Homo sapiens: one gene and its partner. The protein of the gene in region 1 purifies or fractionates together with the protein of each later gene. This does not show direct contact. Each region holds a gene or a part of one and is shown on either strand. Other genes may lie near its edges.

Region 1 (3,500 bases):
CTGACATTCAGGGGAAACCAAAACACAAGAAAATCTCCTTGAGGAGTCATTTCCTTAACAAACACTCTATTATGGATTGAATTGTGTCCCCACAAACTCATATTTGAGGCCCTACCCCTCAGTACCTCAGAATATAACCGTATTTGGCAATAGAGTCTTTACAGGGATAAACAAGTTAAAATGAAATCATTAGATGGGTCCTAATCCAATGTGACGGGTGTCCCTGTGGAAGGGGGAATCTGGACACAGAGAAACACATGGATAAAGGTGATGTGAAAAGACTCAGGGAGAAAGGCAGCCATCTCCAAGCAAAGGAGAGGCCTCGAGTAGACATTTGTCTCGCAGCTTTCAGAAGGAACCCTGCTAACACCTTCGTTTTGGACTTTTAGCCACCAGAGCTATAAAACAATACATTTCTGTTGTTTAAACCACCCGGTTTGTAGCACTTTGGTGCAGTAGCCCTAGCAAACTAATATATACTATTTATTTCAGAAACCTTTGTTATGTGCCATGCACTGTTTTAAGGAATTCACAACTAACTTATTTATTCTTTATATCTCTTCTCTGACAGAGGCACTATTATTTGCCTCCTTGTAATTATCATTAGAGATGAGGAAGTGAGGCACAGAGAAGGTAAGTGACTTGCCTAAGGATACACAGAAAGTACAAGCAGGGCTAGAATTTGAGTCCAGCAACCTAACTTCAGTCTGTGCCCTTAAGAACTGCAAAGGAAGAATTTATCTGGCAAAATACCCAGAAAGTCGAAGGTGTTCAGATACTTCTGGTTGTTTTCTGTACTTTTACAATGGTTTCTGCCTAAAGTTGGGTAATAGCCAGTTGTTGACCGTTCACCACAGCAGATGCTATCTCAGCAAGATAAAGCTTTTGCCAGATAGGAAAGCTGGAGTTCAGAATTGATATCACTTCCTTTACGCAATCCAAGTGCTCTTGAAATCACGTTGTGATTTTTCTGAGATGTGTTATAGTCATTTTGGGTGATTTTAAAATTGTTCCTTACGTTATTCCTCTAACCCCTTCTTAGCCTCAGGTAATCATCTGTCAACAACTGCTTCATTCATTTGGGAAGTACTGTTTTAAAACAATCTCTATCCTTGTGGAGTAAATAATCACTTCTACTTTATCTGTTTTGCAGATGTAGAATTTCTAGAGAGGGCATCCTACTGCGTTCTTGTGTGTCAGGATCCTGTCTTCAGGGATCCTTAGATTTCTTGATCTGGGCAATGGCATTAGCAGAGGAAGGTCATCATGCCCCGTGTGCTGGGTGTCTTCTATTCTGAACTCCCTCACCTCTCCAGATCCGTTCTGCCTGCTTCCCTACTCTGGACTGTGCCCTGGGAAGCTGCTGACCATTATGAACCTATCAAATGCCTTCCTTGCCCTCTGGCTCCTGATTGGATTTGACCAATGGGAGGTACCCATAGGAGATCTGAGGGAGAGAGAAGAGGAGGATCAGGATATTTATCCTCCTAGTTCTTTCCTTGGAACTAGGCTGGCTGCCTTCCTGGGGCCACAGCCACAGTTCCTGTCAGGCAGCCTTCACCCCATAGCCAGCTGGGTCTCTGGGTCCAGCTAGGGGCAGTTGTGGTAGCAGTGGGTCATGAGCCACAGTTACTAGGCTCCTGGTACTGGGTCATGCTTGCTTCTCTTTGTTTGTTTCTTAATGTCCTTCTCACACACTTGTGAAGAGTCCTTCCATTTAACTCCTCTCAAACTGCCAATCTGTTCTCTGCCAAGACCCTACCTAATAGAATCCTCCTTTTCCTCTTTGCCTTATAAAACAATCAGTGGCTAGGCCATGCAGTCTTTATTTTCTAAAAGATTTTTCCCCTTATTTCTAGTTTTATAACCATCCAAATTTTGGCCCGAGACGTTTTCTGAACTAGGACAATTGGGATCCTAACTTCCTGTCTTCCCTTTTTCAACCCATGCCATATACAATGCCAGGTTAATAAGCTTCCTGTAGGCTTCCCGGGAGCTATGAGTTTCCTATGTAGAAAATCCATCACCTACTGTAATACCAGAAGAACAGACTAATTTTTAATCAGAGGATTTAGTTTTAATGACACCATCTTTCCAGAACTTTGCTTTACTCAACAGTCAACTCAACTTCAGACTCAACTCCATTCACTGAGACCCAATGCCTGTGAGTTTCTAATGTTATTTCGCTGAATCCTTAGAAGAACCCTGCACCTTGGCATTTATTGCTCATATTTTATACATGGTAAAATTTAGCTCAGAGACATGATCTATTCTGTCCAAGACCACAGAGAGAGTACATGATAGATCTTGAGTTTGAACTCGAGAATCCATACCCCAAAGCTCAGGTTCTTGCTGTCCCAGCATGGTCTCTACTTATCCCATGACATCTTTGTGGGAGTTATTTGACCCTTCAATACTCTCTTCAACAGAACAAAGTCTACTCTAAAAAAGTAATTTGTTAGCATACAAATCCATGGTAAAGACCAACAAAGGGGCTAGAGGCAGGAGGAAGCCTATAAAATGAGTAGGAGCAGTATGTGGTACCATTGATCTTGGTGCACTTGATGCTCTGGAGGGTGAGGAGGCCAGCCTTGGTGAAGTGTGAAGTGTGGGGCTGGGCAGAGGGGCTGGTGCTAGTGGGGAAAGGGCTTTCTCGGCAGAAGGAACCATGCATGTAAAGTCAGCAGGAGCAAACCCTTAGAGGGAATGGGAGAAGGCACATGTGACAAGGACACTGAGAACTGTGCACTGTAGACAAGATGGGGCTGGTCAGCAAGGCCAGGAGCAGGCCACATCGGGCCTTACAGGCTTGCTGAGGAGTTTCCTTTCTCACCCTGGGAGCATGGGAGCCTCACTTTAAGCAGAGTGTGATACAGAGTAGGGATGCGGCCGATCGCTGAAGGGGGCTGGCATGGATGAAAGGAGGCCAGTTAGAGGCTGCCTCAGTAGGTCAGGAGACAAATGAGAGATCCTTGGAATAGGTTGAGAGTTCATGAGAGAAAGAAAGGCTGGATGTTGGATCTACCCTACAGAAGACAAAGTGGCAATGATTGGCCAGTTTCCCTCCTTTCCTCTGAAGTCCTTCAGCGAAGCGAGTGTACTGACTCAGTATGAGCCCAGGCCTTTCCAAGCCTGGGGTGTCCTGCTCACATGTTTGGTGTCTATTTTCTCCTGAATAAGGACCAGACCCCACCTGCTGTGCTCTACCTAGGTCTGCCCACCACCTCACTCCAGCATCTCCAAAATTACCCCTTTCTTAATATTCAGCTAGATTTCAGAAGAAAGGATTCTAATGAAACTAAAATTCACTCTGAAGAGCCACTGACTAAGCATGCTCTTGTTTTTGTAATCTAAGCATTTTTTTATTAGTAAAAACAATTTACAAATGTTTATAAAACATCTCCTCATAATCCCATTTAATCCTTAAAAAATCACACTTCAGGTGTGCTTCTCAATTCATGAGAAGGATGTGACTGAAGTCTGAGAGGTTGCGTGACCTG
Region 2 (3,500 bases), on another chromosome or scaffold:
ACACACCATATATATTCCTTGAATGTCGATACAGGGGAAGATGAGGGGAAATGTAGAGAGGGAACAAGGCATACGCTCCAAGAGTCCTCTCCCAGTGGGCCACCCAGGACACACTTAGCTCCCCCAGCAACAAGCTGTGACAACACAGTGAAAGTCTGTCTACCAGGGAAGCTCAATGGAGACTCAGTGCCTCGGGCTTTTCCTGGGACGTGGTCATGCAGGCACCTTTTGCCTCATACATACTGAAATTCCAGACTCTCAGAAAGAAAGCAGGTTTTCAGCATAAACCACATTGAACAAACACTTTAGATACAATAAGCCACTCTTAGCAGTTAGGATAGTGTAAATCCTCCCAAAATCCAAGGTCCCAGTGCCAGCCAAGGACTATTTAGAGAGATCATATGTATTATTTTATTACAAGCACATTTATTATTTTATTACAAGCAGGCCTTTCTAATGGCAGTATCACAGGTCTGCTATGTTAACTCATTTCTGTACACCCACTCACTAAGAAAGACTTGTAAATGGAAGTAACAAAAGAAAAACTTACCACATCTAGCAAATTCATAGCTGTTTGAAGAAGGTAGCATTGGGCTGCCCCTCTCAGGAGAATCTGATGTGTGATCATAGTGCAATGAATAACATCCCTGACATCGAAACACAAAAAATGCAGTTCCGTATTCCCAAAGACAATTCTGATAATTTGTGATTATCAACAAGTTGATTTATAACAACTACACTTCCTAATGCAGAAAGTCTGCAGAATTTCAAAGCTGTTATTTCCCATTATGGCCTCTATTAAGAGCTCAATTTTACTATGAAACAAGTCTCTTTTAAAAATAAGACTATAGGCCGGGCGCAGTGGCTCACACCTCTAATCCCACAACTTTGAGAGATTGAGGCGGGTAGGTCACCTGAGGTCAGGAGTTTGAGACCAGCCTGGCCAACATGGTGCAATCCCGTCTCTACTAAAAATACAAAAATCAGTCGAGAGTAATGGCGCACACCTTTAATCCCAGCTACTTAGGAGGCTAAGACACGAGAATCGCTTGAATCCAGAAGGCAGAGGTTGCAGTGAGCCGAGATCGCACCACTGCACTCCAGCCTGGGTGACAGAGCGAGACTCCAGCTCAAAAAAAAAAAACTATAAATGAAGATGCTTTTAAAGAAGTTTATATTTACTGAAATACTTTTTCTTTTTTTCATCTCCTCAAAATTCCTTTTTACCAAATATTTTTTAAATACTTTCTGTTAAATATTATTGTTTGATATTTTATCTTTAGCTTTCTACTTACGAATGTAATTTTAAAAAAAACTTACTGGCCTTATTTAAAGAGGTCAAAATTCAACAGCACATACTTCAGTACACATTTAAACTAGTAATTTGTAAAACAAAATAAGTTCAACTATACGAATAATACATTTTTTAATTTTTTTCTTATGTAAAATTAAGAGCCCAAACATCCCAATCCCAATATTAACTATATCCATTTACTGTAGATTAAAGCAGAGGAGAAAATATATATATTGATGGAAAGTCATGGCAAATAACCATACAAGTACATATACAGAGTAAATTACCTGAGAGCAAGAAGCCCATCTATACCCAGGGCCTTATGTCTTGGGACATTTGCCAAAGCCTTAGATAGAAACAAAATGGGAACAGCACACCAATGCCTACTTGTCATCTTCCGAATAAACTTCAATAGGAAGCTACCTGAAAGAAAAAGTTTTAAATTATCATTGTTGCCAATTAGCACATGAAAAGAAGCTCAATACCATTAGGTATTAGGGAAATACAAGTCAAAACCATAGTAAGGCTCCACTTCCCACACACTATGATGGCTATAATCTAAAGGACAGACAATACTCAGAGTTGGGGAGGATGTGGAGAACCCAGAACCCTCACACAATGCTGGTGGGAATGTAAAACGGTGCAGCCGCTGTGGAAAAAAATATGGCAGTTCCTCCAAAACTTAGACGGACCACATGATCCGGTAATTCTACTTCCAGGTATATATCCAAGAGAATCAAAGATGTGTTCATACAGAAACTTGTACATGAACATTCATAACAGCATTACTCAAATAGTCAAAAGTGAAAACAATCCAAATGCCTACCAATGAATGAATGAACAAAATGTGAAATATCTATACAGTGAAATACTATTCAGCCACAAAAAGGAATGAAATGCTGATACGTGCCATAACAAGGATAAACCTTGAAAATACTATGCTAGTGAAAGAAGCCAGACACAAAAAGCCACGTATTGTATGATTCCACTGACATGAAATGTTGAGAATATGCAAATCTATAGAGACAAAGAGGATCAGTGGCTGCCAGGAGCTATGGGTAGAAGAGAATGAGAAGCGACTATTAACACACCTGAGGTTTCTTTTTGAGGGTGATCAAAATATTCAGGAATTAGACAGTGGTAACAGCTGTACAACTTTGTGAATACACTAAACACCACTAAACCAAATGGTTTAAAAGGGTGAATTCTATCTCAATAAAGCTGTTGTAAAAAAAAGTTAATTTAATTCCTAGTTTAGTAAGATAAGTATTCTACTGTACTATAGGGATTCTGATACCCATGAAGCTGTATTTTTTTAAAAGGTAATTTTTTGTTTGTTTGTTTGTTTTGAGACAGAGTCTCACTCTGTTGCCCAGGCTGAAGTGCAGTGGCTTGATCTTGGCTTACTACTACAACCTCCACCTCCTGGGTTCAAGTGATTCTCCTGCCTCAGCCTCCTGAGTAGCTGGGATTACAGGCATGTGCCACCACACCCGGCTAATTTTTGTATTTTTAGTAGAGACGGGGTTTGGCCATGTTGGCTGGCTGGTCTCAAACTCCCAACCTCAGGTGATCTGCCCACCTCAGCCTCCCAAAGTGCTGAGACTACAGGCGTCAGCCACCACACCCGGCCAGTAAAAGATAAAATTGTTTATGATTAGAAGCCATTCTTCTATTTGAGATGTGAAGGAAAAACAGGATAGGAAGTATTGATGGTTAGTGGCCTCTAGTATATGCAAACAGTAACATCTTTCTCATAGGCTGTTTCTTGACTACCTTGGATTTAATTACGATTATTTATATTTCTATTTTGAGATACAAAGGGATAGTGCTTCATTCTGTCCTCTCTGCTAATCTGTGATTTCTTAAGGACCCTCATCTCATGTAGTTAGTGAAAATGTCTGTTTTCTCACATAGTTGTAGAATGACTTTCAAGAAATCCTCAGAAGCTACTAAAAGGATATTACGCGGACTTTGTGTCTTTTGAAATACCTAGCACAAAAGACATTCAGAACACCCAGAAGATATTCACTGGAAACTGGTGACTGAAAAATGACTAAATAACTGTGAATGAATGTTTTAATTGCTCTTTTTGAACTCCTGGCCTCAATTTTTCTTTCTTCCATTTGCACTAACTAAATTCAGTAAATCCCATCTTTTGCCTAACGCTTCACTCATGACACTAGGAAGATGGCAATGGCCAAGT

Evidence for each region.
Region 2: the proteins of ABLIM3 (region 1) and TARBP1 purify together in Homo sapiens (affinity purification with mass spectrometry; one large-scale study listed by BioGRID and IntAct). This does not show direct contact.

Annotation. Positions count from the first base shown.
Region 1 is NC_000005.10:149,147,993-149,151,492, reverse strand, and holds part of ABLIM3 (actin-binding LIM protein 3), read right to left. Parts: intron 1-3,500. UniProt on the Homo sapiens protein: May act as scaffold protein. May stimulate ABRA activity and ABRA-dependent SRF transcriptional activity.
Region 2 is NC_000001.11:234,458,680-234,462,179, forward strand, and holds part of TARBP1 (tRNA (guanosine(18)-2'-O)-methyltransferase TARBP1), read right to left. Parts: intron 1,718-3,500; coding exon 1,582-1,717; intron 648-1,581; coding exon 551-647; intron 1-550.